Regions from separate parts of the Homo sapiens genome. Here all the other regions are linked to region 1. Evidence: fine-mapped expression QTL. A gene starts in region 1. Each other region holds a variant in brackets. All regions are shown on one strand. Distances are between the middles of the regions. Region 1 holds the start of ACOX3 (acyl-CoA oxidase 3, pristanoyl). Region 2 overlaps ACOX3 (acyl-CoA oxidase 3, pristanoyl). Region 3 overlaps ACOX3 (acyl-CoA oxidase 3, pristanoyl). Region 4 overlaps ACOX3 (acyl-CoA oxidase 3, pristanoyl). Region 5 has its middle 61 kb from the start of TRMT44. Region 6 has its middle 63 kb from the start of GPR78. Region 7 has its middle 34 kb from the start of LINC02517.

Region 1 (4,000 bases):
AGTCTTACAAAGGCACAGAGGCAGACAGTATTGGGAGCCATCAGAGGGGACTATGTACCTCCCAGCAATTGCTGCCTGAGGTAGGCAGAAGAGCCTCCCAAAAGTGTCCATGCCGTAATACCCAGGACTCGTGAATATACTGTATTATATGGCAAAAGGGGCACTTGCAAACATGATTATGGTTACAGACCTCAAGAGGAAGAGTACTCTGGATTATCCAGGTGAGCCCGGCCTAACTCCATGGGCCACGAAGAGCAGAGAATTTTCTCTGGCTGGAGGCGGAGGAGAGAAGCAGCAGGAGAGGAAGGCAGAGAGATTCCAAGTATGAGAAGAATTCAACCCCATTGCTGGCTCTGAGATGTAGGAAGCTGCATGAAAGAACCAGAAAGAAGCCTCCAGCAACTGACAGCCAGCAAGGGAACAAGGACCCCAGTCCTACATAAAAAATTGGATTCTACCAACGAACTGAATGAGCCTGAGAACAGATTCCTTCCCAGAACCTCCAAATAAGAGCCCAGCCGGCAGGCTGTTTGATTTTGGCCTCGTGAGAGAGACCCACAGCGGAGAAACCAGCAGAGCCAATGGGGATTCCTAACCTACAGAACTGAGACAATCAATTTTTTGTACTGACCAATGAATTTGCAGTAATTTGTTACAGTGGCAATACGAAACACATGCTGCTGAATAAAGTTTCAGGTAAGAGTGGCTGAGGCTGAAGTGTCAAGGTCACGGGCAGTAAAAATAAATGCCAGAGATTTAACGAACGCTGAGGACTAGTAGGTTCCCATCCATCCAGTCTCTATGCTCTTTCACAGTTATTTGTCTCAGCATAAATAGCTCTCTTTATGTTGGGGAAAAGGCTTATGGCATGCCTGTATAAACTGGCCATAAAAATATGAGACAATAAGTTGTGGAAAGCCACAAGAGGCCTCTGAGGAGGAAAGCCTTCTTATTGTCATGATGTTCCCATGCTCTGGGCGAGACCTACTGTCTTACCTATAAACACTGTGTTCAAGGAGAAAGACACTCCTTTGAATCACTACAATGTGGTCAGACATGCAGGCTCCTAGTTAAGCACGCTCCCACTGGTTATTCTCCGACAAGTTAAAGATAACGCTGTTTGAGCACAAAGGAGATTCATTTAAACCGCCACTGCTATAGATGACATGTATGATGCACTGTCTCCCTTTCACCCTTTCGCCCCGAACGTCCGCTTCTTAGATCTAAGTGATTGTACTCAATAGTGTGGAGACCAGAGCTCCCAGGCTTTGGCAGCCTCCATTTTGCAATTGGCCCCCTGGCCCCCAATCTTTATGCACTCTTAACCTGTCTCGTCTCATTCCTTCGTCGCCACCGGACTTTGAGTACCCTACGGGTGGTGTTGAGGCTGGTCCCCAACACTTTTACACCTACAGCTTTACCTGCTAAACTCCTAGGTATTACGCAATATCCAGCTAGTCCTTCACTGTCTCTTTGAAGCCTTCCAGACACCACCCCAATCAATTATCCCATCTTCTGTACTAAGGACACACATTTCTATGCGCCCACTCAAAAAACTATGAAACACCTAACAACCTCCCTAGGACATCGCAGAGGAACTAGTACCCTTAGGACTTTTTCATTGACCCGAGGTTCTATGAATGCTTTTTTATCTAATCATATCCGTCCACTATCAAAACACTCTTACCTTGCACGACTATTTCCCTCCTGGGAGTTGTAAGGGGGCAATGTGGGCTAGTTTTCGGGATGACGGTTCTGAGAACCACGTCGAGCTCACGCTGCGCCTCTGGCTGCGATCCCGCCCCGGAGCTGGTGAGGAAGGCCAGCAACTCCGAATTGCCACGGGCGAGACTTTGGGAGAAATCCTCCCAAAGCGAATCCAGATCTGCGGCGGGGAAGTCGCCCTCCCTTCCTTCAGCATGGCCGGGGTGCCCGGAGTCCCTCAGGGGCACTGAGGCGGCTTCCCTCTGTGCCTCCTCTTGCTGGCACTGGCCCTGGGCCTCCTCAAGTTCGCAACATGCCGTGCCCTGCTCGGGTCCTGATAGCGACCTGGGACCCGGGCCCCCTCCGGGGGAACCCTGGCCGGGTCCCGGACCCCGCTCCTTCTGCTCCGAGCCTGCGCTAGTCCCGGGGCCGCGGGCCTCCGCGCAGGGCAGGGCGGCGCTCCAGCGGGCCTCCAGGCGGGCGCCGCAAAGCCGTTTGTTTGCCACCTGCGGCCTCTCCAGCCACACTTCGACCGCAGCCCAGAAGCCCTGTGGGAGAAGCGCGCCTGGGTAGCTGATCCCGGTACGGCCCACCTCAGCCATGGCAGCCAGCAGGTGTACAGCCCTGGCAGCGGCGCGCCGAGATGACGCAGCCCGGTGGCGCGGCGCGTTGACGTCATGGAGGCGGGGTGCTGGGACCGGAAATGAGAATGGCGCCGCTGGAGATCCTTTCCTGCTTTTGGTTTCCCTGGCAGGGGTTGAACTGTGGAGTGTGTGGGTGAGGAATTTGACCTGTGTTTTATTCCCTTTTGAGAGAATTCTGGGCGTGGTATAGTTACAGAATCAAACATCAGCCAGCCAGCGGGTGTGGAACGCATTGTCCTCAGTACTGATTACCGATAAAAGTCAGGGAGCCTAAGTTTGTGAACGTAAAAGATGAGTCCTCTTATGAAAGCTAACTTTTCTCCACTTGGGTTCTGGTTTGCTTTTAGTGCTGGCATTACAGCCAGTGCCTTCCTAAGTCTGAGTGCAGCCATGGCTGTTTCATAAGAATGATGTAACGTTGTCCCATGAGGGATGAAAGTCATCTGTCACCTACTGTAGCAGGACAAGCCACAGACAAAACTCCTCAGACACCGGATTAAAGAAGAAAGAGGTTTATTCGGCCGGGAGCATCGGCAGACTTGCGTCTTAAGAGCTGAGCTCCCCAAAAAAGAAATTCTTGGCCTGTTTAAAGGCTTACGACTTTAAGGGTCCACGTGAAAGGGTCGTGATAAATTGAGCAAGCATGGGAAACGTGACTGGGGGCTACATGAATCAGCTAACAGAACAGAAAGTTTTGCAATGCTTTTTTCATACAATGTCTGGAATTTACAGATAACACAAGTAGTTTAGGTCGGGGGTTGATGTTATTATTATTATTTTTTTTAACTCCTAGGGCCACGTGGTGGTGCCAAGGTTGTCTGGCTATTTATCTGACTTTTGTTTCTTTCTAACTTTTTGCTTTCTCTCTTTTCCTCCTGTCTTATGAACTAGGCAAGGTGGCAGGGAGGAGGGCAGCAGGAGTAGTAGTGGTCTCCTTATCCCTTCCTTTGAGAATTTTCACAAATTAGTGGGAGTTCTCGCTTTTATTTTTACTTTGAGTCTCTTTGGGAGACAGAGTGATAGTGTTTTATGTAATACACTTGCAGTGAGGGTTTTAAATTCTCTTATAGCTGGAAACTATCTTTTAAATAAAGACCTAGGATCAAACCTGTGTTAAACCAGTACAGGCACATGTGCCAACTTTGTCATGTCCTAAGCAGGTTAGTTTTTTTACTGGGTCTTAAAAGCTTTTTTCCTAGCAAGCAACACAGTATTTCTTAATAATAGGAGTTTTTAAGAGCCAAATGCTTGAACTTGGCATCTGCTTGGGGAAAGAGTTAAAGTAATCTTGAGGCATTAAATCTTTTGCTTCTCAAGGCCATTGGTCTCTCATGTTAGCCTTTTTATAAACATAACATGAAGAAACGTCTAGGCTGCTGGCAATGTTTTCAGCCAGCTGAGCAAATAGGTTGTTTGTTTGTTTTGCTAAAGGAGGAGGCTCTTGTAACTTCTGGTTTATGTGTTTAAAGAATGACTTAAAGACTCGGAATTGTTGCTGGGCTGGACGGGTCTGGGTTTCCTGACTAAGTAGTATGTGTACAATGGGGACACCTTATATAGGTGTTTCTTCTAGCATGGTTATGGGGGGTAACAATAACAAAACAATATACAGCATATTTGTATCCAGCAAGGACAAAAGAGGTCCTTACCTG
Region 2 (4,075 bases), 21 kb after region 1:
AGTGGTATTGGAGTGTTATAGGGTCATAGAGAAGACCTTCAATTATCAATTATAGGTTTTAAATTTACCCTGGCTTTTAAAGGAATAGGGTACACTGTTTTTTTCTTAACTACTTATATATCTCTCTCTTTCTTTCTCTCTTTGACTGTCTCTCTCTTTCTCTTTGACTTTCTGCCTTTCTTCCCCCCTCTCTCTTTCTTTCTCTCTCTTCTCTCTCTCTTTCCTTTCTCTCTCTGTTTCTCTTTCCCTCTCATTCTCTCTCTTGATAGATGGATTTTGGGAACACAGCGGAAGAATGTTCGCTCGTTGCCCCCATTTGCCTCTATAGGAATATGCGCCTCCCTTTAATTTACTCAATTCGCTTTCTTCCTGATCTATTCTGTTGTCGTAGACACAGTTCCAGTTGTTAAAGTACTGGGTCATCAATTCTAAGGCCCTGGCCAAGGAGTCTAGGCTTAGAGATTGTATTGCAGTGGGGGAGGTAAGCTGGGTAGAAATTGGGGGAGGAGAGCATCTTACACAATGGGAGAGCAATCCTCCTAGCCATTTACAAACTTGGGGCCCTGGCAAGGGTGGTAGGTCCCACATAACTTCCCATGTCGAGAGCTGTATATCTAAATTGGGAGGGACACCAGGGACAAGACTCCCTGGGTTCATACCCTAGGTGCTTAAGGACACAGCGTAGAGCTTCCTTAGATCCCTTTGGAGATACAACTTGCTCTAATACTTGGGAGAGGAAGTGAGTCTGAAGCATTAGTACCTAGGAGGCAGGGATCAGAGGAAGTAGATTCAGAGGTAAGGAGAATTTTGGGGCTACACTTTCAAGAAAGTCATGGTTAGGACCCAGGAGGTATGGGCCAGAAGGAGAGATAGGGGTGCACGCATGGGCAACTGTTGAGTAGAGACTTCTGGCTGCGCCATGATCTTGACCGGCCAATGCCGGGAATTTGGGACGACAGCTTTCTGCCTCTAGTCAGCCCTCTGCTTCCCCAAGAAAACTGTAAAAGTGGAAGCTGGTTCCAGGCAGACCAATGCTCCCAACCCAAAAGGGTTGGGGATTGTTAGAAAGCCTTTTCCCAGAAAGCCTCACACCTGAGTCTTAAGTCCGGTGGCCACATTAATCATTTTTAACCAGCCAACAGGTGCCCAGTATTTTCCTCCAATTCTAAGGAAGGGTAGGACAGAATAGCAAGTGAAAGTGGTTCAATATTACTCACCGCTTTGGAGAATCCCCATACGAGCCCAGCAAATGTTACCGATGAGTGTTTGCTCCCAGAGCTCCCAAGATGGTGGTGGGCCGCTTCCAAAATGGCAGCAAACCTCTTGCTCTCTGACCTGGGGTTCTTGGCCTCACGGATTCCAAGGAATGGAACCTTGGGCCATGCGGTGAGTGTTATAGCTCTATTAGAAGCCGTGGGTCATGGAAGAGAACTGTGGAACCCAGGGACTAGTGTTCAGCTCAATTAGGACGAACCCAGGCACTTAGCCATGCAGGAACAATGGTGAGCCTCTAGCCCGATTGGGAGCAGCAATGGGTGCCTCACTGGATCAGAAGCTCAGTGGACACCCTGCTGGATCCGGAGGGGTGGAAGTCAGTGGTGGGTCTGCGATGGCGATGATCAGCAGTGGTGGACAGCAAGTGATAGCTCAGCTCGAGCTGGAACAAACATGGACCAGAAGAGTGTGCAGTTGCAAGATTTAATAGAGTGAAAACAGAGCTCCCATTCAACGGGGGGGTACCCAAAGGGCGTTGCCTGATCTGGCTCGAATGCCTGGGTTTATATCCTGATCATTGTGCCTCCCCCTGTGCTCTCAGGGGATAGGTGATTTAATTATTTCTTTACCTCCTGTTTTTAGCCTAATTGGTATTTTAGTGAGCTCTCTTTACTACCTGATTGGTCTGGTGTGAGCTGAGTTACAAGCCCCATGTTTAAAGGTGGGTGTGGTCACCTTCCCCAGCTAGGCTTAGGAATTCTTAGTCAGCCTTGGAAATCCAGCTAGTCCTGTCTCTCAGCATCACTGTATTATCACCCCCAAGGTGCACAGATCTTAGGAAGGTCACCCAGCTAGAAAGCTGTAACATTGAGATTTGAACCCAGACAGTCTGGCTTCACAATCCTTATCTCTAACAGTTGTACCATAATGCAGTAAGGTTGGTGACTTCAAGTGGCATGGGCCCATAGGTACTTGTTAGGATCTGGGGATTTGGAGCCAGCTGTGCTTGATAATAGTTGTATGACCATGGTCAATGTCTCTAAGAAGCTCCAGTTTCCTCACCTGGAAAAGGAGACTACTGATAGTACTTGGGCTTGGTGGGCACAGTTGAGGTCT[A/G]TGTAGCTGCTTAACACAGTCACCTGCACACAGCACCAGCTCAGTAACTGGAGGTTGTTATGAGGGTTTTATCAGGCTGGAGAGAAATGAGAAGATTCCGTAAGGTGTTAGAGATGCACTGTGGACTTGGTAATGTACTGAGGTTATGGCGCATGGAGAGGGGAATTCCAACATGACACTGGGGTTTGTAATTCCAGTAATCCTTGGGTGACTGGCAGTGTGGAACTGGGGTGCAGGAGGCGAAGCTGGGTCAGGGCTGAGAGGCTGAATTCAGTGTTGAACACTCAGTATGGGCATCTCCAGAACATGAGAGGTGGGGAATTGCCGTTGACTGCCAAATGAGCTCACGAGTCTGGAGGTGTGAATCGGGGAGCCTTGCACACATTGAGGACGTGATGTTTTCGGTTCTCTTGCGTACATACCTCAGAGTGGAATTGCTGAGTCATGTGGTCACTCCATGTTTAATCACTTGTGGAACTGCCACACTGTTCTCCAGAATGGCTGGGTCACTTTACATTTTCACTGGAAGGGCATGAGAGTCTGATTTCTCCACATCCTCTCAATACTTGTGATTATTTTTCTGTTTCTTTTTTCTTTTTTTCTTTTTTTTTTTGAGACAGAGTTTCACTCTGTCACCCAGGCTGGAGTGCAGTGGCGCAATCTAGGCTACTGCAATCTCTGCCTCCCGGGTTTAAGTAATTCTCTGCCTCAGCCTCCCAAGTAGCTGGGACTATAGGCACCTGCCACCATGCCCGGCTAATTTTTTTGTATTTTTAGTAGAGATGAGGTTTCACCATGTTGGCCAGGCTGGTCTTGAATTCCTGACCTCATGATCCACCTGTCTGGGCCTCCCAAAGTGCTGGGATTACAGGCATGAGCCACTGCGCCTGGCCTATTTATCTGGTTCTTTAAGAGATAAGGTCTTGCTGTATCACCCAGGCTGGTCTCAAACTCCTGGGCTCAAGCTGTCCTCCTGCCTTAGCCTCCCCAGAGTAGCTGGGACCACAGGCACGTGCCACTATAGCCGGCATTTAGTATTTTAGTATCTTTTTGCTCATTGCCATCCTAGTGGATGTGAAGTGGTCTCTCATTGGGTTTTTGGTTTGCATTTTCCTGGTGGCTAATGATGTTGACCATATTTTTCTGTGTTTTTGTTGTTGTTGTTGTTTGTTTGTTTTGTTTTCTTTGAGACCGAGTTTCATTCTTGTTGCCCAGGCTAGAGTGCAATGGCACAATCTCAGCTCACTGCAGCCTCTGCCTCCCGGTTCAACCGATTCTCCTGCCTCAGCCTCCTGAGCATCTGGGATTACAAGCATGCGCCACCATGCCCAGCTAATTTTTGTATTTTCAGTAGCGATGGGGTTTCACCGTGTTGGCCAGGCTGGTCTCAAACTCCTGACCTCAGGTGATCCGCCCGTCTCGGCCTCCCAAAGGGATTACAGGTGTGAGCGTGCCTGGCCTTTCCTGTATTTTTTGGCCATTTGTCTGTCTTTGGAGAAATGTCTATTTGAACCCTTTGCCCATTTTTTAATTGGTTTTTTGTCATTTTATTATTGAGTCTTAAGAATTTTTTTTTTTTTTTTTTTTTGAGATGGAGTCTCGCTCTGTCACCCAGGCTGGAATGCAGTGGTGCAATCTTGGTTCACTGCAACTTCTGTCTCCCAGGTTCAAGCGATTCTCCTGCCTCAGCCTCCTGAGTAGCTGGGATTACAGCCATGTGCCACCATGCCTGGCACATATAATC
Region 3 (4,075 bases), 72 kb after region 1:
TTTTAAGGGCCTTTTCTACCTTGTTGGGAAGAAACAAGCCCTAGAAGTCCTGAGTGAAAAGCAGCATGGTGAGAACATTCCAGTGCACAGCAAGGGCCTCGAATCCAGGCCGGTGAAGAGATCACGCATGGGCAGCAGAGCCGCACGTGCCGCTCAGGTGACCCGTTGCTAGTGGGTCCTGGCAACCACACACGGGGCTGTTATGCTTTGGTCACCATGGAAATTCCCGGGAGGTGCCAAGTGTCTGGGCTTTGTTTTCCAACAGCTGAAAGACGATGCAGTTGCCCTGGTAGACGTGATCGCTCCTCCTGACTTTGTTCTGGACTCACCGATTGGCAGAGCCGACGGCGAGGTAAAGGGAGGACAGGGCCTCACGGGAGTGCCCCAAGGGTTGATGGGCATTTCTGCGGAGCTGAGATGCTCCTGTGGGTCAGGGGTCTGGTGTCTTCTGGAAAGTGGTCACACATGGAGGAGCTTCTTGGGGAGGGCCCGGGACAAGTCAGGACTGTCTCACTCTGGTGCTTCCCCATGCTGGCTCTGTGGTTGCAGGGGACTTGCCCATCCCCTGCCTGCCTTTTCCTCCCGAGATGGGGTGGTGGCACTGCCCGCCTGCACAGGCAGAGGTTGGAGGTCCACACACTGTGACCTCTGCCCTCCTCCCACTCCCCCCGGCCTCCCCGGTCCCAGGTCTTACCCCCATCTGACCATGCTCCTGGCCCTGCAGGCCTCTTCCCCCATCCCTGTCCTGGAATCCCCAGGCCCCTCTGTCCCCTCTGACCATCCATGGTTGTCACCGGGGTTACTCTCCCCTGCCCCGCTTTCCCCCAACCGCCTCCCTGTGGCTCCTCAGCTCTCCTCCTGCCCCCCATGTTCCATAATGATTCCTTCATAGCAGATGGGGTCAGGCCGCCCCCCTGAGGGAGCCTCCACCAGCCTCCTCGACTGCCTGCCACGCCCCAGCCCCACACAGCCACTGAATCCTTCCAAGGCCCTTCACCCCACGCTCCCCTCCTGCCCACCAGATCTAGCCTTACTGGCCTCCCCGTCTGTCGCGCCAGGCCCATGCCCACCCCAGGGCCTTGTGCCTGCTGCTCGGGCTGCCTGGAGTGCCTTCCATTCTTTCAGTATAAGCTGACTATTGCTGCCTTGGAGAGGCCTTCTCTGGCCTCCAGCTGAGGCAGTGCCCCCAGGCACTGTAGTGCTGCCCTTGCTGGCCTCATCACTGACCTTGTGTCTCCCTCCCACCTGATGATGCCCTCGAGGAGCGATGCTCACAGGTCCACTGGGTGCCTTCCAGCACCCCACTGCTTATGGGGCTGTGTCTGTCTTCTGCTAGAGGGACTCGGCGTGTCAATGCTCATGTCCCATGCCTGAGGTCCCCTGGCTGTGAGTCACAGAGGGGTTTGACCCCATCCCTGCCCCCTGGCCCCGCAACTGAGTTATTTCTGCTGAAGCACCTGCTGAAGCACCTGGGTCTCTGCCCAAATGGAGATTGAGCCTTAGTGGGCAGGACCCTCCCTCAGTCCTCAGGGAATGCTGAAGTCTGTACATGAGCCCTTACCGGCTTAGCCAGGGAGGGCCCAGCGCCTGGCCTCAGCGCGGCCCAGGCTACACCTGGGTTGGGCTAGGTGTGCCAAGAGGCAGGTAGTGCCAGGAGCCGGGTGGGCAGGGCAGGAGGTGAGAGTTCCCCGTAGTAGGAGAGGCAGGGATGGTCATCTCTGCAGAGGGCCTGCTGTCCTGCATCGGGGACTGACCACTGACCATCCCCAGAGCCCATACAGCCCAGATGATGACTGCCGCTGAGAGCTGAGAGCCAGAGAAGCCCAGTGGGTTTCCCAGCCAGGGAGTGGCAGAGCCAGGATTTGAAGAGACTGTGCCCTGCTGTAGGGAGAGAAGACTTGGCGGGAGCCTTGGGTCCTGGGGGAGCGCATAGGAGAGGGACTTGCCCTACCCACCTTCCTGGGAGAGGCAGTCTCCCCAGGAGGTGGGGGCTCACCAGGCAGACAGGCATTCGAAGGGACACTGGAGCCAGACCCGCCATGGAGGACCCCCAAGCACACGGGACTGTCTGCCCCGTGCAGGAGAAGCCGGAGCGGCCTTGAGCGTCTACCTGCTGTGCCTTGCTCTGCAGAGGCAGGCCCGTCTCTGAGGCAGGGAACGACCAAGGAAAGGAGAGACCTTGCCCATGATGGAGGGGCCCCCTGGCTCTGGGTTCCATAGTTAAAACCAGAGCCAGCTGGAGGTGTCGCTGGCAGGATGGTTTATTAAACGTGCATTCCTGGCTGAGCATGGTGGCTCACACCTGTTATCCTAGCACTT[T/A]GGAAGGCTGAGGCGGGCGGATCCCTTTAGCCCAGGAGTTTGAGACCAGCCTAGGCAACATACTGAAACCCCATCCATAAAAATTACAAAAACTGAGGTGAGAGGATCCCCTGAGCTTGGGGAGGTCGAGGCTGTGGTGGGCAGTGATCGCGCCACTGCACTCCAGCCTGGCCAACAGGGTGAGACCTCATCTCAAAAAAAAAAAAAAAAGTGCATTCCTTCCAGTTGCAAGGAACTGGTGTATTAACCAGGAGCTGCCAGGTGAGAAATTCACTATAAGCGAACAAACAGAGCTGCAGGGGAGTTGAGACCATCCTTAAATCAAGCCCGCTGCTCCAAACTGTGAAACATAAGCTGGAACCTAGGCCCTGTGGAGCAGCAGCCTGGGTCTGTGTCTGTGGAGCCCAGAGTAGCAGAGTGGGGAGGAGGGGTTGCTAAGTGCATTTAGCGGGTGCAGGCAGAGGGGTTTCTTCTCAATAAAATGGGTCAGCGTAAGCTGGATACACAATAGACCACCTCCCCAGGCCCTGGAGATGGTCTGGGCTGCCCCTTTCCACCCTGCACGGGTGAAGTGTCTGCTCAGCTGCCCTTCGCCCTTCATTTGTACAACCTTCCTCCAAGACAGGAGCGTCTCTCCCCATCTTCCCAGTGAGGCCACTTAGGCTGAGAGCAGTGAAGTCTGCACCTCCCGTAGGGGAGTGCTGGCCCGGGGCAGGACCAGAGGAGCAGGGTGTGGTGGCCCAGGTCCAGAAATCAGCCAGTAAGGGCCACTCGGCGAGGGCATCCTGCTGCTGGTGGCCACGTGCCACCTGTGCGGCCTGTAGCGGCCTGGGGTGTGAGAGCAGATTTCAGAGCAGCAGTCGATGCAGCCTTGCAGCATCCTGCGGTGGCTGCAGTTACTAAGAAACAGCGTGTCCACTGCCACGATCAGTTCTTTTTTTTTTTTTTTGAGATAGGATCTCACTCTGTCACCCAGGCTGGGGTGCAGTGGCATAATCTCGGCCCACTGCAGCCTCAACCTCCTGGGCTCAAGTGATCCTCCCACCTCAGCCTCCCAAGTAGCTAGAACTACAGGTGAACTCCTCCATGCCCAGTTAATTTTTTGCTTTTTTTTTTTTTTTTTTTTTTTTTTTTGTAAAGATGGGGTTTCGCCGTGTTGCCCAGGCTGGTCTCAAGCTCCTGAGCTCCAGTGATCTGCCTTCCTCAGCCTCCCAGAGTGCAGGGATTACAGGAACGAGCCACCTCACCCAGCCAATAATTTCCAAAGAAGAGGGCGAGGGGTGATTTTCATTATAAATGTGTTTTATAGTACTTTATAATTGAATTGTCCTAATTGTTTTCTACTAGAAAAAAAAAGAAAATATTCATATAAATTTAAACCATTTTAAAATTTCTCTAAAAAGTGACAGAGAATTTCCTGTGCTTTTTTGTTATTGTTGTTGTTGTTTGTTTGTTTTGAGACGGAGTTTTGCTCTTGTTGCCCAGGCTGGAGTGCAGTGGTGCAATCTCGGCTCACTGAAACCTCTACCTCCCAGGTTCAAGTGATTCTCCTGCCTCAGCCTTCCGAGTAGCTGGGATTACAGGCATGCACCACCACACCTGGCTAATTTTGAATTTTTTTTTAGTAGAGATGGGGTTTCTCCATGTTGGTCAGGCTGATCTAAAACTCCCGACCTCAGGTGATCTGCCTACCTCGGCCTCCCAAAATGCTGGGATTACGGGCGTGAGCCACTGTGCCCAGCCGAATTTCCTGTGT
Region 4 (4,075 bases), 48 kb after region 1:
CACTTTGTTCTGTAGTGACTTTGATGGGACAGCTGTGAATAGCGGCCATTTAGCGAATTGCGTTTGAGCTTGTCTGTCAAGGGCTATGGGTGAAAGCCGAACTGGCTGAGTTGAGAGCGTGTCAGGGTGAAGGCTTTCTGATGTGCCGGGAAGACATGTGAAGACCTTCAGCGCTAGTGGGTGTGTGGCCCTGACGGCCTCTCCCTGCACTGGCTTTCATGGTCCCTGGGATGGGCTGCCCTTCATGGGAACCACGATGTGTTCACGCAGGTGTCTTGTCTGTTCTAGCAATGGCGCTTGCTTCCATATCTGGCAGCTGTCTACGCCTTAGACCATTTCTCCAAGTCGCTCTTCCTGGACCTGGTGGAGCTCCAGCGAGGACTTGCATCGGGAGACCGCAGCGCCAGACAGGTGAGGTGGTGTCTGCTTCCTCAGCAGCATCGTTTAAATCTCACACGGTTGGAGCAGCATAGATTCAACCTTCATTTCAAAGCAAAATCAGTCCTTTGATTTGCGAGGACAGAGCATTCCTCCAGTTGTTCCCACCCACTCGGAGCTCTTGGCCTCTGCCGCGATTGAACGGGCTGGGCACGCGTCCACACCCCTGCCTCTCAAGGATGTGCTGACACGACTCCCGGTTCCAGTCTGTGAGTTCAGCTGTTGGTCTCCTTTTGAGAACATGACGGTTTTGCAAAATCCACGTTACCCGCCCCTCAGTGGATTTCATGGTTCTGAGCCTTTTGTAAACAGCTGCACAAAGGTCTGAATCCCACTGACTGGATTTGAGTTGACAGTCAGAGGATTTGTGCCAGAAACGAGCGTGCAAATCCCGAGATCAGCCTCGGCATAAAGAGACATCGGGAACGGATTTCTTTGTAGATGATTATGAACTGATTTTCCATTGTCCCTCCTGCTGCCTCCTGAGCAAGAGTGAAATGTGAATCAAAAGAAATAACCGTGTTTGAAAGCAGAGGAGAAACGCCACAGATTGCTGTTATGTACAACATCAGAAAAAGCCTGTATCTAATTAGCATATCTTGAAATATTATCGGTGTCCACATTCACGGCAGATGATGGCGAAGGGATGACCTGCAGGATTGATGGCAGAGCAAACCCCAGGCCTGGAGGCCTGAGGAGGGAGCGCTTCTGACCACTAAAGGGGTTAAGCCTGTGTTTTCCCTGGAGCGTGAGTCAGTGGAGCTTTTGCCAGCTGACACTTGCATTGTTCTCCTGTGAATAATGTTGTAAAGGGTGACCAGGCTGATTCTTTCTGAAACTCAGTGGTTTAACCCAGGCAGAGGAGGGCCTCAGCTCAGCCCCTTATGTGAAGTTGAAAACACTCATAAAATGGGTCACTGGACTTAGCATGCGTGTGTGTGTGTGTGTGTGTGTGCGTGTGTGTGTGTGTGTGTGTGCGTGTGTGTGTCTTCCTCTTAATTGTTTTTCCTTTTTAATTGTCTTTCTTTTTTAAAATTAAAAATTCTTCTTTTACTCTGAATCAGTCTCTTAAGTTTTTGTTTGTTTGTTTGTTTGTTTGTTTTTGAGACGGAGTCTCGCTCTGTTGCCCAGGCTGGAGTGCAGTGGTGCGATCTTGGCTCACTGCAATTTCTGCCTCCTGGGTTCAAGCAATTCTCTTGCCTCAGCCTCCCAGACTAGCTGGGACTACAGGTGCCCGCCACCACACCTGGCTAATTTTTTTTATTTTTCAGTAGAGACAGGGTGTCACCATGTTGCCCAGGCTGTTCTCAGACTCCTGAGCTCAACTGATCTGCCCGCCTCGGCCTCTCAAAGTGCTGGCATTATAGGCGTGAGCCACTGTGCCTGGCCCAGCCTCTTAAGTTTTCATCATTAGATATCAAGCAGAAGCAAAGGAGTCTTC[TTTC/C]TTTTTTTTTTCCCCTTAAAAAAAAGCCTGCAGCACCTGCTATTCCCAGGCGGTCTCCCATCCAAATACTAACCACGCCCGACCCTGCTTAGCTTCACGAGATCAGGCTCATTCAGGGTAGTTTGGCCATGGACAGCAAAGGAGTCTCAATAAAACATGTTAGGCCTGAGGGAGGCACGGTGAGCCCCCACACAGAGCAGACCATCAGTTACCGAGGCGCTTGCAGCCTTCTGGGAATGGACTGGTCCCGGCCCTTCCCTGTCCTGGGAGCGAGCACTGTCTGCGGTGCTGAGTCTGGTTCCCTGGCCTTTCTTCATGGTTTCGCTGCAAACAATTGCAACCTTCCATGGTGTGTCATTCACTTTGACGTTTGTGAACTTTATATAAAGTGGGCCATGACGCACATTCTTCTGCAGTTTGCTTCTGGGACCCGTGTTAGGGCCCTGAGAGCTATTTGCTGTGTAGAGCTGTGTTTTCATTGTTGTGAAATGGTATGAGCGTACCACAGTGTATCCATACTTGGATAAAGACCCTTTTTTATTTCTAATTACAATTAGGTTTCCTCTTCTGTCATTTTCGGGATGTCTTGTATTAGACTAGAGGTGATATGGTGGTTTGATGCTATTGCTGACTTATGACTTTTTGGTGTCTAAAGTCTCTTTTCACCTGTTCTTGTTGGATTCCCTCACCCAAAGGCAGAGCTTGGACGTGAGATCCACGCCCTGGCATCGGCCAGCAAGCCCCTGGCCTCGTGGACCACCCAGCAAGGAATTCAGGAATGCCGGGAGGCGTGTGGAGGACACGGCTATCTGGCCAGTAGGTTTTGGAGAAGCGCATGGTGGTTTCCTGTCCTTAGCCCTGCTGTTTGACTCTAGACCAGGGGTCGGCAGACTGCGGCCTGAGGACCAAATCCAGCCTGCCACCTGTTTTTGCAAATAAAGTTTTATTGGAACACAGCCAGCCACCCCCGTTCATTTGCACATTTCCTGCAGCTGTTTTCGCACTGCAAGGGCAGAGATGAGTAATCGCAGCTGTGACAGAGACCATGTGGCTTACAGAGCTGAAAATATTTACTCTCTGGTCCATTGCAGAACAAGTTTGCCAACCCCTGCCCTAGATAGATCCCACTGCTTTCAGATGCCTGATGCTTCTTGGCCAAAATATAGGCAGAGAGCAGCTGATCTGCTCATTTGAATTTTAACTATTTGGTTAACAGCTTGGTAGTAAACTAGCACCATGTTTTGTTTGAATAGAAAATTCTTACACTTAGATAAAGAGTTAGTTATATCGGCATTGATGATGACTGAGGCAGCTGTTATATGGTTAAGAGCGGAGGCCACCAGCTTGCCTGGGATTGAGTCCTGGCTCCATCTAACAGCCTGGTAACTGTGGGCAGGTTGCTTAACCTCACTGTGCTCAGTTTTCTTATTTTTAAAGTGGGGGTGATAATAGTGTACCCACAACATAGGTTCTTGCCAGAATTAAGTGAATTACCACGTATGAAGTGTAAGCATGGTATCTGGCATGTAGTGCGTGCCCAATGACTTTTTTATTTGCTAATGCTGTTATTATTAGAATTATCATCAGCATTATTTACAGCTTACCTGCAAAACTTCCCGTGTGCTAATCTTAAATAATTAACTGGCAAAAACTGGTTGCTCAAAGAAGGCCATGTACACACTCAAAACAGCCACAGCATCAGCAAAACTCTCTTGCCCTCCAGGAGCACTTGGTCCTTGCCAAGTTTGTGAGAGTTTTTGTGATGCTCTATCTAGAACTACACACACACTTTCAGCGATCATCCGCCCACCACTGCAGTTCTAACTCGCACCTGTTCCAGCATGGGCTGTTAGCAACGTGGCCCCTCACTCCCACCACAATCTGTCTTTGTCACTTACTGACATGCGGGTAGCCATGGCTGTACACAAGTTACTCATTTGCATGCTTTGTCCTCTGCGCAATGCCCTTAGTAGTTTTTGTCTTTGTAACTCATCGGGATTCTATAAATAGTTGAATAAGGAAATTGAATCTTGCAGTACTGCAGACAACAAAGATGATGGAATCAAGATTAATCATATACATATACATATACATATACATATACATATACATATACACATACATATACATATACACATACATATACATATGCTGGGATTGAGACCAATATGACCGAGGCTCCATCTAGGTTTA
Region 5 (4,075 bases), 60 kb before region 1:
ACCCTGTGTGGGCATCGGGGTGGAAAGTTCTCTGCACCTTACTGGGTGCTGACTCTTTGCTGTGTTCTCTGAGGTATGTGGCCCAGGAGTTCCACCAAACCCTCCATCCGGGTGGCTGCCTGAGATCATTCTGCAGGCTGGGGCCACAACAGAGGCCACCTCTGGGACCGAGTGCTGTGTCCCTTGCTGGTGGGTGCATGGCCCTGTGCACACTGTCAGCCCAGTGTCCTCCACACCTGGGTCCGGATTCCCATGTGGGTGATTCTCTTGCTTTAGGCTGCTTCCCCGGGGCAGATGCTTGAGCCGGTCCGACTGCTGCAGCCACGGCCTAGGGTCTGCTGGGATAGAGTGCCACCCTTTCCGGGGCTGTAGGGGACAGCTTGCCTTGCAAGGTGAATGGAGTAGACCCTCAAGGGTGTGTGTGCAGAGCGGGAGAACACCCCTAAATGCGGCTCCTGCAGCCTGGGGAAGGGGTCGGGTTTCTTTGGCTGAGAATTGTCCAGGAACCCCTGCCAAGTCCAAGTCCTCCCTCTACAGATAATGAAGCAGAGACCCAGTGGGAAAGCAGCCCAGGGTCACAGCCAGAAACCAAACCTTGGCCTCTGCCTCTCATGTGGGAGGTGAGGGGTGGGGAACGCCCCCTCAACCCATGACATTACCTCATCCCGATGGTATTCAAGCCTGTGCTGAGTCTGTGTGTGCCTGTGTCTGTTGTGTGTTCAAGGGTGAAGAAGAAGTGGTCTTGGGCCAATCCAGAGAGTGGTGGGCAGACCCTGTAGTGGCCCATGTTCCCCACCTCCTGGCACTGACACCTTTGATTAATCTCCCCTGAGTGTAAGCGGGATCTGGGAGCTGGGACCTGGGACCTGCGTCTCACCAATAGCATCCACCAAGGCAATGGCACTGCTTCCTTGACAGCCTTGCATAAGATCATAACTGGTTGTGCTGCTGTGTGTGAGCTGGCCCTGGGAGAGGGCCTGTGGCCAGGAAAAATCAACCCCACTTTGCCAAAGAGGAAACTGAGGCACAACAAGTCTCTGGCCAACAGCCAGCAAGGAATCGAATACTGCCAACATCCTGGTGAGTGTGGATGCAGAGCCTGCCCCAGCTGAGCCTCGGCTGAGACCAACGCCCTGGCTGGTACCGTGATTGCAGCCTGATGTGACCGTGAGCAGGGAACCTTGCTAAGCTGCACTCACACTTCAGACCCACTGCACCATGAGCTAAATATGTGTCCTTGAAACCACTAAGTTCGTTGTAGTTTTTTAAGCAGCTGAAGATTAGAAATATTCAGAAGCTTCCTCTCCCTCCACCTGACCCCCTGCTTCATCAGAGGATTGCAGATGTGGTCAACAAACACCAACAGGAAGAAGGCAGGGCAGGGTGTCTATTTCATGGCGGCTGCCTGTCCCGAGGACCATTCCCATGGATGCACTCAGGGCAGTTTCTGGAGTCATTCCTGGCAGAGTATTCTGAAAACACACCCATTAACCTTCAGGGCTGATATCAACAGGAGCCCCCGTTTTATGGGTCAGAACCATTTTGGAGAATGTCACGTTATGACTCACAGAACCAAATTTATTCTCCCTCTTTGAACAAAACAATCAATAGCCCTTCTGTAAAATTCAGCTGCTGCTCAGAGGACCAGTTGTCTGTCTCCTCCTGGGAGAGGAGTTACTTCCCCAGGGACCCGGGAAGAGGCGGGAAGCCAGCTGTCCCCAGAGTGGCACCAGTCTTCTCAACAGAGAGATGTGGGCAGGGGTCAGGACCAAGAGCAACTTCTGGAACCTTCCAGGCAGCCTTCTGGTTTTTGGATGGAGAGGCTGGGGCCCAGAAAGGACAGGGGCTGCTGAGCTCACAGCCGATGGCAGCAGAGCCCTTGAGACTCCAGTCACTGAGGGCCCCAACTGAGCACCTCCCAGCTAGCTCCCCATAAGAAGAAAGAAGGGAAGAAGGGGAAAGGAAAAGGGAAAGGGGCAAAGAGGGAGAGGAAGAGTCCAAAAACATCTCAAATAGCAAAGGAATGTCCCGTCTGCCGGAGCCTGGTGAGAAGGCCCTTGTGTGAAATCGCTAACCCTCACTGAGTTCTCACAGTGGCCAAG[T/C]GCCCGCTAAAGCTGTTAGGCTCCAAATGTACTCAACCTTCTCAACAATCCTCTGCCAAGATTATCCTCATCCCCATTTTTCCCAGGAGGAAACTGAGGCACAGGAAGTTGAGTGACTTCCCCAAGGTTGCAAGTTTTTGAGGCAGAGCTGGAATTTGAACCCAGGACATCCGGTCCCAGAGCTCATGCTGCTATTAATAGCAGCAGCCTACATACCATCTCTCAGACTTCGAACTGCAGGGGCCAACTGGGGGTGGGGTCTCTCCTGCCCCACATCCCCCGATGGACCAGGGGTCCCCTCAGGCCACCTGCCAGCTCCACCACAGGCCACCTCCCGCCCTGCACATGCACAAGCCATCACCTCTGCTGTCACTCTATCCCCAGCACATGGAATTGCCGGCCATGCAGTAGGCACTCAATTGGATCCACTGAGCAGTGGCACGACCACCTGCCCCACAGCTGGGGGCCTGGCAGGGCTGCATCCGGGTTTCTGGCCCAGGGCAGAGCTCCCTCATACAGTGCTTCCCAAGCGTTCTCACCCCCACACTGAGGAAGTGGTTCTATCTATGGGTGCTACAGCACAGGGTGGGGGTCCCAGCATCACAGGAAACACACCTGTCTTCCCAGCACCTTGGGAGGCCAAGGAGGGCAGATCCCTTCAGGCCAGGAGTTCAAGAACAGCCTGGTCAACATGGTGAAACCTCCGTCTCTACTAAAAATACAAAATAATTTAGCTGGGCATGTTGGTGCACACCTGTAATCCCAGCTACTCGGGAGGCTGAGGCACAAGGATTGCTTGAACCCAGGAGGTGGAAGTTGTAGTGAATCAAGGTCAACGCCACTGCACTCCAGGCTGGGCAACAGAGTGAGACTCTGCCTCAAAAAAAAAAAAAAAGTAAACAGTGCCTGCCAGACACTTGTGAAAGGTGGCAAGACTGGCTTCATTCAGACCCCTGGAGTGGGGAAGAGGTTCCAGGACACACTGAGCTGAGTCTCAGCTAAGACTAAGGGGACTAGGGCTTTTAATTTATTTTATTTTATTTATTTATTTATTTTTTCCAGAGGGAGTCTCGCTCTGTTGCCCAGGCTGGAGTGCAGTGGCATTATCTTGGCTCACAGCAACCTCTGCCTCCCAGGTTCAACCGATTCTCTCTTATGCCTCAGCCTCCTGAGTAGCTGCGATTATGGGTGCACGTCACTAAGCCCAGCTAATTTTTGCATTTTTAGTAGAGATAGGGTTACACGATATTGGCCAGGCTGGTCTCGAACTCCTGACCTCAGGTGATCCACCCGCCTCAGCCTCCTGAAGTGCAGGGATTATAGGCATGAGCCACCGCACCCAGCTGTTTTTATTTTTTTAGAGACAGAGTCTCACTTCATTGCCCAGGCTGGAACTCCTAGGCTCAAGCAGTCCTCCCTGCCTCAGCCTCCAGAGTAGCTAGGACTACAGGCACATGCCACCACTCCCAGCTAATTTTTAATTTTTTTCATAGAAACAGGGTCTTGCTATGTTGCCCAGGCTGGATTTGAACTTCTGAACTCAAGCAATCGTCCTGCCTTGGCCTCCCGAAGTGATGGGATTACAGGCATGAGCCACTGCGCCCATAGGCTGAGAGCTCTCTCTCTATTTTGGCTTTTATTTCTTGTTCAAGGGTACATGTGCAGGTTTGTTATATAGTAAACTCCTGACTCAGGAGTTCAGGGTGCAGATTGTTTCATCACCCGGGTACTCAGTGTAGCATCTGACAGTTTTGTGTTTTCTTCTGAACCCGTCCCTCCTCCCAACCTCCTCCCTCAAGTAGGTCCCCATGTCTGTGATCCCCCTCTTTCTGCCCACTGTTCTCATTATTTAGTTCCCACTTATAGATGAGAACACACGGTATTTAGTTTATTGTTGGTTTCATCTTTGGTGGTGGTGGTGAAAGAGGCATGACACTAAATCGACCCTCAGGACACACTAAATCGACCCTCAG
Region 6 (4,075 bases), 76 kb before region 1:
TCGAGGCAAATGACACCCCATGCATGGCACATCCCACCCCACCTTCAGATGATCAGAGTCAGAGAGAATGGGAGAAAACATTAGATGAAGCTGCAGCTGCCTCTGTGTCTCCCCGCACCCCTGTCCATTTGACAGGGGCAGCCCAGGAGTCCCCATCACACCTCTGCTGGGCTGGTGCAGCTAGAAGAGGAGAGGCAGCTCCCAGAGGGGCTGTGAGCAGAGAAGGGCCTGTATCGAAGGCCATTCTTTTTTTTTTTTTTTTTGAGACAGAGTCTCACTCTGTCACCCAGGCTGGAGTGCAGTGGTGCGATCTCAACTCACTGCAAGCTCCGCCTCCCGGGTTCACGCCATTCTCCTGCCTCAGCCTCCTGAGTAGCTGGGACTACAGGCACCTGCCACCACACCCGGCTAATTTTTTGTATTTTTAGTAGAGATGGGGTTTCACCGTGTTAGCCAGGATGGTCTTGATTTCCTGACCTCGTGATCCGCCCACCTCGGCCTCCCAAAGTGCTGGGATTACAGGCGTGAGCCACCGCGCCCGGCCCGAAGGCTATTCTTGACCCAGGATGTGGGGACACCCTCTGACATTTCCCAGCCACCCCGCATGGTGAGGGCTCCTTTCTCATTTTGCATAAGGATGGCTAAGGTAAATTGCCTGATATTAGCTGGGGGCATGCGAGACCTGGTACCCAATTGTCCAGGCCAGAGCCCACACTCCCCAAATCCCAGCATCTTCACTGCTGCTTCTCTCTGGGGCAAAGAGAAGCCCAGCAGCTTCCCGCCCTCCCTTCTGCCCTAATGCCCAGCTGCAGCCTGCATGGCCAGAATCAGTTCCTTCTAGGAGTGCCGGCTCAGAGAAAGGTCACTTTCAGAATAGAGAGATTCTAGAATGCGCCTCAGTTCTTGGAAGTCACTTTTTCCTTCTCAGCCAAAAGAGCAAAAGCAGTTGCCCAGGCCCCCGCCCTCTCTTGTCCACGCCAGAAGTTTGTGCCTCGTGCAAACTCGAGAGAAATGGGCACCTCCCAGCCATGGCCTACTGCTGACGTGGCCTCAAGTCCGGGTCACCCCAGGGAGAAATGGGACCTTCCAGAGCTTGTGCAGGAAGAAGCTGGTCATGCCAAAGTGTCAGGCCCTGCCCCGGCCAGAGGGACTGGGCTCTGGCAGGCGTGCCTTTGCCGAGGGACTGGGTTCCGGCAGTCGTGCCTTTGGGGGCTCTCTGAGTGAGGGGCTGGAGGTGGAGCAGGAGAGGCCCTCGGCTGTGCTGGTGACCCTCTCATGCTGTCACTCAGCTCCAGGGGTATGCAGACCCCACAGGGCCCCACCCAAAGCTACCCCACTGGCCCCACTTCACACTCCCTCCCTGAAAGCCAGGAGGTGCCATCCGAGTGCCCACCCTGTGTAGGCAAGGACAGGAAGGGCCTAGCGCAGGTTACTCAGGTGCATGGGCAAGGCCGGGTACCAAGCCAGGTGTGTCTGACCCCAGAGCTGGTGCCTTCTCTCCTGCATGCCCTACCCTCCCCTGAGCCACAGCCTCATGGGGCCAAAGACAGACTTCTTGAAAGGGCATAACATCCAGCCAGTCATCAAGGTCAGGGGACTCAGGACAGCTAAGCTGGAAGGACCCTAGAGCCACGTGGCCTGTGTGCAGGTCTCAGATGAGGATTCAGGGGCCCAGAGAGGACACGACTCCCCCAGCCTCACACGGCAGGTTGAGGAACAGAGTCGGGACACACCTGCTGCCCCCTCCTGAACCCTGGAGACATCAAGCTCCCTACCAGATGACTGTTGCTTCCTCTGCCCCCCTCCCTCTTCTGCTCCCTGGCACTGAAAGAGGGGCAGGAAACTCAGGAGGGCCCTGTCTTGACGTGCCATGATCACCACTAGATACAAATGAATTTTTCAAATAAATTTCTGGATGAATCATTATACCAGGAAACCTTGAAAACTGCCTATTTCTCCTGGAGGCTTCTATCCTCTGTCTGGTCCAACAGCTGCCTGCAGTCTCCTTTCTTGAAAACTTGTAAATAATTCATTTGGCTGATGGGGCTGTTGACAACTATGCCAGTGCCTGCTGCAGCCCCAGCAGCTGGAACCCCAAGTCCAGCGAAGGCCTCTGGCTGTTAAAATCAGCACTGAGTCCTTAGCTCCTCTTTCAAGTCCATTCTCTCCCCAGACACTCATGAACTGGGCAATAGACCATGGCCCTCATGAGGCTCCATCTGCACACCAATCGTTCACTGGGGTTTCAAATCAGCCAGAAGAGATATCTGCAAGAAGCTTGTTCAGGTTACACTGTTACAAGGTTACATTGTTACAACCGTACATCATTGCCAAGGCCACATTGCTCATGAGAAGATGGGTGAAACTCTAACAACCCTCTCTGATGAGTTCTGGGCTGGTGATGGTGTTGTTTTTGTTGTTTTGTTTTTTGTTTTTTGAGACAGGGTCTTGCTCTGTTGCCCAGGCTGGAG[T/G]GCAATGGTGCGATCTTGGCTGACTGCAGCTTCAATCTCTTGGACTCAGACTCTTCTGCCTCAGCCTCCTGAGTAGCTGGGTCCACAGGCACACACCACCAAGCCCAGATAATTTTTTTTATTCTTGGTAGAAATGGAGTCTCACTATGTTGCCCAGGCTGGTCTTGAACTCCTGGCCTCAAGCCATCCTCCCACCTTGACCTCCGAAAGTGCTGAGATGACAGGCATGAGCCACTGCACCTAGCCTGGGCTGGGGTGAGGTTTTTCAGGGAATGGTGAAGGGTGAGGGGCTGGAGAATTAGGCTTGTTGATTGGTCAGGTCAGGGAAGGGAGATGAGTCATCAGTATCTGGGACCATGTTCTTGGGCGAGTCAGCTCCTCTGGGGTCCTCAGGACAGCTGGTGTCAGGAGTGTCCTTGGCACGCAGAGCCTGAAGGGGTATCTCAGGGGAAAACACGTTCCCAGTGCTCAGGCTGTCGTCTGCAGAGCAGTCGAGGGGGCGATGCTCTTGTGGCCGGGCCTGCGTGACTCTGGGGCCATAGCAGCAGATGGGCACAAGGTGGTGGGTTGGAGCGTGGCCACCCAGGGACGAGCACAGAGGGCGCCGCACTGAGTTCATTTTTGTTTTCCCCCCTCTATTCTTCCCTGGTTAATTTTATGAAGTTTACAGGGACGGTTTCAGACCCCCAGCGTACAGCTGGGCAGAACTTCCATCTTGTCGTGGGGGAGAGACCACGGACAACCATCTCACTCCCAGGAATGCAGGCGCTCAAAGGAGGGTGTCACAGAGAGGCGTGGAAAGCCTGGCGAGCTCTTCCAATATTTTCAGGCACTTCCCACTTCTTATTGGACTATAACAGACATGAAGAAGTACAGATGTCATCAGAGGACAGCTTGATGGACTTTCACCAAGTGGGCACAGCCCTGAACCAGCCCCATGTCACCCCGCACTGGGGAGGGAACGTTTGAGCGGAGGCTGAGGGCACTGGGAGTGAACTGTGTCAGTGCCTGGGGAACAATATTTGGGCAGAGGGACCAGCCTGCTCCTTGGTCAGGAGCACCCCAACCCCTAGCCCAGCCTCTGCTCCCTGCCCCGCCTCCTGCATGGCCCTCAGGCCATCCCAGGGGTCATATCCCCCTGAAAGCCTTTCCTGACTCACCCGACTCGGGTTGGGTAAGGCACTCCTCTGGGCTCCCACAGCCCTGGCCCTGCCCCTGGTGACACTTGCTGTTCCTCTGTCTCTGTTAGGCTGGGAGCAGCTTGGGAGCAAGGGCAGCATCTGCTCAGGAAATGCTGTGGATGCCAACTGCTCTCGTCATTCTATGGGCCTGCCGCAGGGGCAAAGCCAGGACAGCTGTTCACCGCTGCCCTTCGCTGGACCGTGAGTTCCCAGTGGTCAGCCCGAATCCTCCATGACCATTTCCTCTGAGCCTAGAACAGGACCCAGAACAAATTGGGTGGTAAATAAATAAGTGAAGCCAGGTGCATTGGCTCACACCTGTAATCCCAGCACTTTGGGAGGCCAAGGCGGGAGGATTGCTTGAGCTCAGGATTTCGAGACCAGCCTGGGCAGCATGGTGAAATCCTGTCTCTACAAAAAAAT
Region 7 (4,075 bases), 87 kb after region 1:
ATGCATGAAAGCAACAAAGCCCGGCCTGCAGACAGCACATGGTAAGTCTCCTCTTCCCAGCATGTTCAACAGGAAGCCCTCATTCCCTCTAGAATGTAGGAGTCTTGCCAGCAGTGGCCTGTTTGTTCTCTGCCTGTTGCCGACCTGATGAGAACATAAAATTGGTGTCTTCTGTATAGATTTCCTTCTTATTGCCCCTACTGTGGCTGAACATACCTTCCCCCGTGCTTGAAGTCTGTTCATATATGTTCTGCTGTGATAACTGCCCATTCTTGTTCTCTATCTAAGAAGGCATTTAGTTTTGAAAATATTTTGTTGGCTTGTAAGATATTTGTACATATTAAGCACAGCAAACCTGTAACATATTCACTGTAAATCATTATTCCTCATGCATCATTTGCCATTTAACTGTATTTTTTTCCTTTTTGATGTAACCTGCTATAGTTTACATTTTTAAATCAGAAATGCCTGCACATTTTAAAACGAAGACTCTTATGCTCTAGCCTTTGAGGTCATGCTTGGAAAGTCCTTTCTCACACAAAGATTATTTACACTTTCATCTCTTTTTCTCTGAGTACGTTTCAGTGTTTAATTGACCAGGAATGTATTTCGAGGTGTGATATGAGACAAGGATCTGAAATGCTTTGCCCACTGAATCATCATGCACTGACCGAAATGCCACCTGTATGAGTGCTAAAATCATTGTCGCTGGACCTGTGTCTGCACTGTTTAATTTTAGTGTTGTTTCTCACATCAGCTTCTGTTGTTTTCATGGTTGTGGTTCTCATACTTTTAATATCTGTTGGAGCAAATAAAGCCTCGTTTCTCATCTTTTCCAAAAATGTCTTATGTATGTGAACTTTGGTGTTATTTGTCAAGTCTGGGCATTCTCCCACCCCCATATTAAAGAATGCTCTCTGGAGTTTGTCTGGAGGTTTTGTTTAACTTTTAGATTCACATCAGGAGAATCTTTGTCTTCATGGTAAGTGGTCTTCCCATCTAAGACTATTTCTTCAAGCTGTTTGTAATAAAAAGCTGTGTGATTTTTGTATGTTTATTTTGGTCACCTTATTGAAACCTTATTTTAATTATGACAGTTTTTCATTGATTCTCTTTGGTTTTCCTTCTCTATCATTGGCAAATAGTGATGGTTTACCCTTACCCTTCTGATATAGTTTGGCTGTGTCCCCACCCAAATCTCATCTTGAACTGTAGTTCCCATAATCCCCACGAGTCATGGAAGGGACCTGGTGGGAGGTAATTGAATCACGGGGTAGTTACCTCCATGCTGTTCTTGTGATGGTGAGTGAGTTCTCATGAGATCTGATGGTTTTATAAGGGGCATTCCTCCTTTTAATTGGCACTTCTCCTTCCTGCCGTCATGTGAAAACGGACGTGTTTCCTTCCCCTTCCGCCATGACTGTAAGTTTCCTGAGGCCTCCCCAGCCATGCTAAACTGTGAGTCAATTAAACCTCTTTCCTTTATAAACTACCCAGTCTTGGGCAGTTCTTTATAGTAGCGTGAGAACGGACTAATACACCTTCCAAAACTTTTACCCGTCATTTAACTTTCCTGTCTAATGACATCTGCTGGCCCTGCGGGATCAATCTTTCACACCATGCTGGGGAACCATTGCTTGGTGTCTGCCATTATGGGAATGCCTTCAGCCTTCGTATTAGTTTGATGCCATGTGGACGGTGGACTGGAAAGACAGTCTTGCTTGGCAGTGGACACAAGTGTGTGCCCATGGTTGTGCCCGTGGCCAGAAATCTCTGTGACTCACCAAGGGAGATGCCTGCAGAATGAGAGAAGTTTCTCACTGTGAGCTTAAACACAGAGGGAGCTTCCTGCGGCTACACGGGGCCAGCTGGGATGCATGCCTGCAGAGACATCTCAAAACCACAGGCGGATGAAGAAGATAAAAATCAGCCAGACCCCATCATCTGTGAAAGCCCAGAAATATCTTGGGGTTGAGGTCTTTGCGGCTGTCACTGCTAAGGATCTTGATGGTGGCGGAGGCGTGGGAACTCTTTCATTTTAGGATGTGTAGTTGACATGGAGCAGCCTCTTGGAAACTTGGTTTGGATGCACTTCTGACGGCTCAGCCCAAGCGTGAATCACGTTCCCCCATCATTGTGTATCCACCCCACCCTCCAGGTTTTAGGTGGTTCCAGCCCCTGGGCTGC[C/T]GGCCAGCAGGGAGTGTCCATCTGACCAGCATTTAGTGAACACCTAGCTACACGTAGCACTGTGTGGGGACAGCATGTGCCATAGGACCACCTCCTCGTCACCAGAAACTGCCTTCCTCCTTGACTTTGTTCATGTGGGCCTTTTACTAAGACACTTCACAGGCTTTTCATGGGTCCCATGGGGCCGTGTCCCCATCTGAAGCATGCCCCAGCCATGGGTCCCCTGGAAGTCAGGGGGTCTTGGCTTCTCTCCTTGTGTGGTGGACCCTGTGGGCTTCCTGTCCAACTTCCAACCCTTCCTCCTCACTAACAGAACCCCAGTTCTGTCCAGATTTCTCCCCAGATGTGGACAGCCCCAAGCCTTGGGAAGCTGCCCTGCCCCAGCACTGGCACTGGTTCGCCTTAGCTGAAGTGCCCTAGCACCTTCCATTCCCTTGGCCCCAAGGACTGGCTCAGTGATGAGGCAAAGTCCAAGGGTCCTGTTGAGTCTTAAAGACTGGCTGGGGACGTTGGGACAGAAGTGGCCTCTCACTTCCGGGGGACATTGCCCTGGACACTTAGGAGCTTCAGGTGGCCTCAGCCATGGTGCCACCACGATGAGACCAAAGCCACCCTATGGAGTGGGGCATGCCATGGGAATCACGGACCACAGTGGAAGCACAACTACAGGCCGTGACTGCAGGAGGACAGGGCCCTGGATGGACGACAACTCTTCCCTCTCTGGCTTGCAGTTCTCCTGCAGAACTGACCGAATGCAACACCCTGGAAAAAGGAGGAAATGACCCGAACAGCCCAGGGTGTGGCCTTGGTCCTCCCAGATAGGATACTCTGCAACACGTCTGCTCGGTGAGCCCAGTGGTGCCCAGGGTATAAAAACCAGGGCAGAGCACTTTTGGGTCCCTCTGCAGTGCAAGGTGGGCATGCACAGATGCGACTCCGTCCACCCTGGGTGGCTCTCCTGAGCCCTGGGGCCATGGCTCGAGTGGAGCCCAGGCTTCTGTTTGGACTTGCTGCCTGCCTGTGAGCATCCTGTCTCTCTGGACCAGACCTAGGAACCTTGGAGGTGGCCTTCCTGGTGTGGGAGCCGCCTCCTAATTGCTCGAGGCAGCTGGGCAGGGTGCGACAGACTTCTTGCACGGAGCCCCAGCATTGGCCACGGTGGGGACTGCTTGGCCCCACAGGCACGTGCAGAAGAACCCAGCTGGGGGGCTGTGGCCCTGCCGGAGCCTCTACTCTCCATGTGAGGAGGGGAAGATGCGCTCAGTCTCTGGCCTGGGCGGGCCTGTGCCGCATGTGCTGTGCCGTGGTCCCCGGCACTCTCGCCTTTGCATTCCCCTCTGGGGCCACTTGCTGTCATGCAGCTTACATCAGAGGGTTTCCCTTGGGCTCTGGGCTTTGATCCTAAATCTGGGAAGTCAGGGCCACTCTGCATGAGAACCCAGAAACCGGTGTTCCTGTGGCTTCCAGGAAGGCCCCACCCACCTGCACCCATTCAAGTGCAGGGACTGACCTCAGCTCATTTCCATCCCACCAGGCTGTCCAGCAGCCGCCCAGGAAGGGACTTGGTTTGCTTTGTGAAGCTTGGAGGAGGATGTCCCCAGCTCTGCAGTGGTCAGTGGGAGCCCCGTGTTGTGTTGTGAAGGGAAAATGTGCAGTGACTTGTGGAAGGACCTTCCTCCATTCACCCCCTCCATGTACACCCTTGCCTAGGAGATAGACGAGGAGGTTTGCTCAGTCCCGGGCGGCTCTGTGCCCAGCCACTGCACTGAGTTTGGAACAAGGTTTGCTCAACCTTTTATGTGGTTCACAAGCTCCATCTGAATTCTTTCAAGCAAGGAGGCCCACATTGTGCTGAACTGTTTGCTTTGCAAGAGAAAATACACATCTA

What was found. PIP is the estimated chance that this variant, and not a neighbour inherited with it, causes the effect. A credible set is the group of variants that fine-mapping cannot tell apart.
Region 2: its variant is the best candidate, but not a certain one, in a credible set for the expression of ACOX3 in whole blood (INTERVAL, PIP 0.82).
Region 3: its variant is the best candidate, but not a certain one, in a credible set for the expression of ACOX3 in monocytes (TOPMed, PIP 0.89).
Region 4: its variant is the best candidate, but not a certain one, in a credible set for the expression of ACOX3 in testis (GTEx, PIP 0.78).
Region 5: its variant is the best candidate, but not a certain one, in a credible set for the expression of ACOX3 in whole blood (TOPMed, PIP 0.63).
Region 6: its variant is the best candidate, but not a certain one, in a credible set for the expression of ACOX3 in whole blood (TOPMed, PIP 0.52).
Region 7: its variant is the best candidate, but not a certain one, in a credible set for the expression of ACOX3 in sigmoid colon (GTEx, PIP 0.68).

Annotation. Positions count from the first base shown.
Region 1 is chr4:8,439,129-8,443,128 of GRCh38, reverse strand. ACOX3 (acyl-CoA oxidase 3, pristanoyl) reads left to right here and starts at 2,406. Exons shown (of 18, transcript NM_003501.3): 1 at 2,406-2,481. TRMT44 (tRNA methyltransferase 44 homolog) reads right to left here and starts at 2,352. Exons shown (of 11, transcript NM_152544.3): 1 at 1,688-2,352. The coding sequence starts at 2,306. RefSeq lists silencers at 1,939-1,998, 2,049-2,258 and enhancers at 1,727-2,460, 2,279-2,518.
Region 2 is chr4:8,418,303-8,422,377 of GRCh38, reverse strand. The region is part of intron 1 of ACOX3 (acyl-CoA oxidase 3, pristanoyl); the gene reads left to right. Among named protein-coding and RNA genes, the nearest start is that of ACOX3, 20 kb to the left of the region's middle. RefSeq lists an enhancer at 2,834-2,883. The variant A/G (reference allele first, on the strand shown) is at 2,332.
Region 3 is chr4:8,367,185-8,371,259 of GRCh38, reverse strand. It overlaps ACOX3 (acyl-CoA oxidase 3, pristanoyl), which reads left to right. Exons shown (of 18, transcript NM_003501.3): 17 at 266-352. Among named protein-coding and RNA genes, the nearest start is that of LINC02517, 49 kb to the right of the region's middle. The variant T/A (reference allele first, on the strand shown) is at 2,320.
Region 4 is chr4:8,390,956-8,395,030 of GRCh38, reverse strand. It overlaps ACOX3 (acyl-CoA oxidase 3, pristanoyl), which reads left to right. Exons shown (of 18, transcript NM_003501.3): 10 at 289-411; 11 at 2,578-2,698. It also overlaps the pseudogene RNA5SP152. Among named protein-coding and RNA genes, the nearest start is that of ACOX3, 48 kb to the left of the region's middle. RefSeq lists enhancers at 1-865, 1,596-2,401. The variant TTTC/C (reference allele first, on the strand shown) is at 1,880.
Region 5 is chr4:8,499,582-8,503,656 of GRCh38, reverse strand. It overlaps a transcript of TRMT44 not described here. Among named protein-coding and RNA genes, the nearest start is that of TRMT44, 61 kb to the right of the region's middle. The variant T/C (reference allele first, on the strand shown) is at 2,103.
Region 6 is chr4:8,515,140-8,519,214 of GRCh38, reverse strand. It overlaps a transcript of TRMT44 not described here. Among named protein-coding and RNA genes, the nearest start is that of GPR78, 63 kb to the left of the region's middle. The variant T/G (reference allele first, on the strand shown) is at 2,472.
Region 7 is chr4:8,352,072-8,356,146 of GRCh38, reverse strand. It overlaps a transcript of ACOX3 not described here. Among named protein-coding and RNA genes, the nearest start is that of LINC02517, 34 kb to the right of the region's middle. RefSeq lists an enhancer at 2,308-2,858. The variant C/T (reference allele first, on the strand shown) is at 2,188.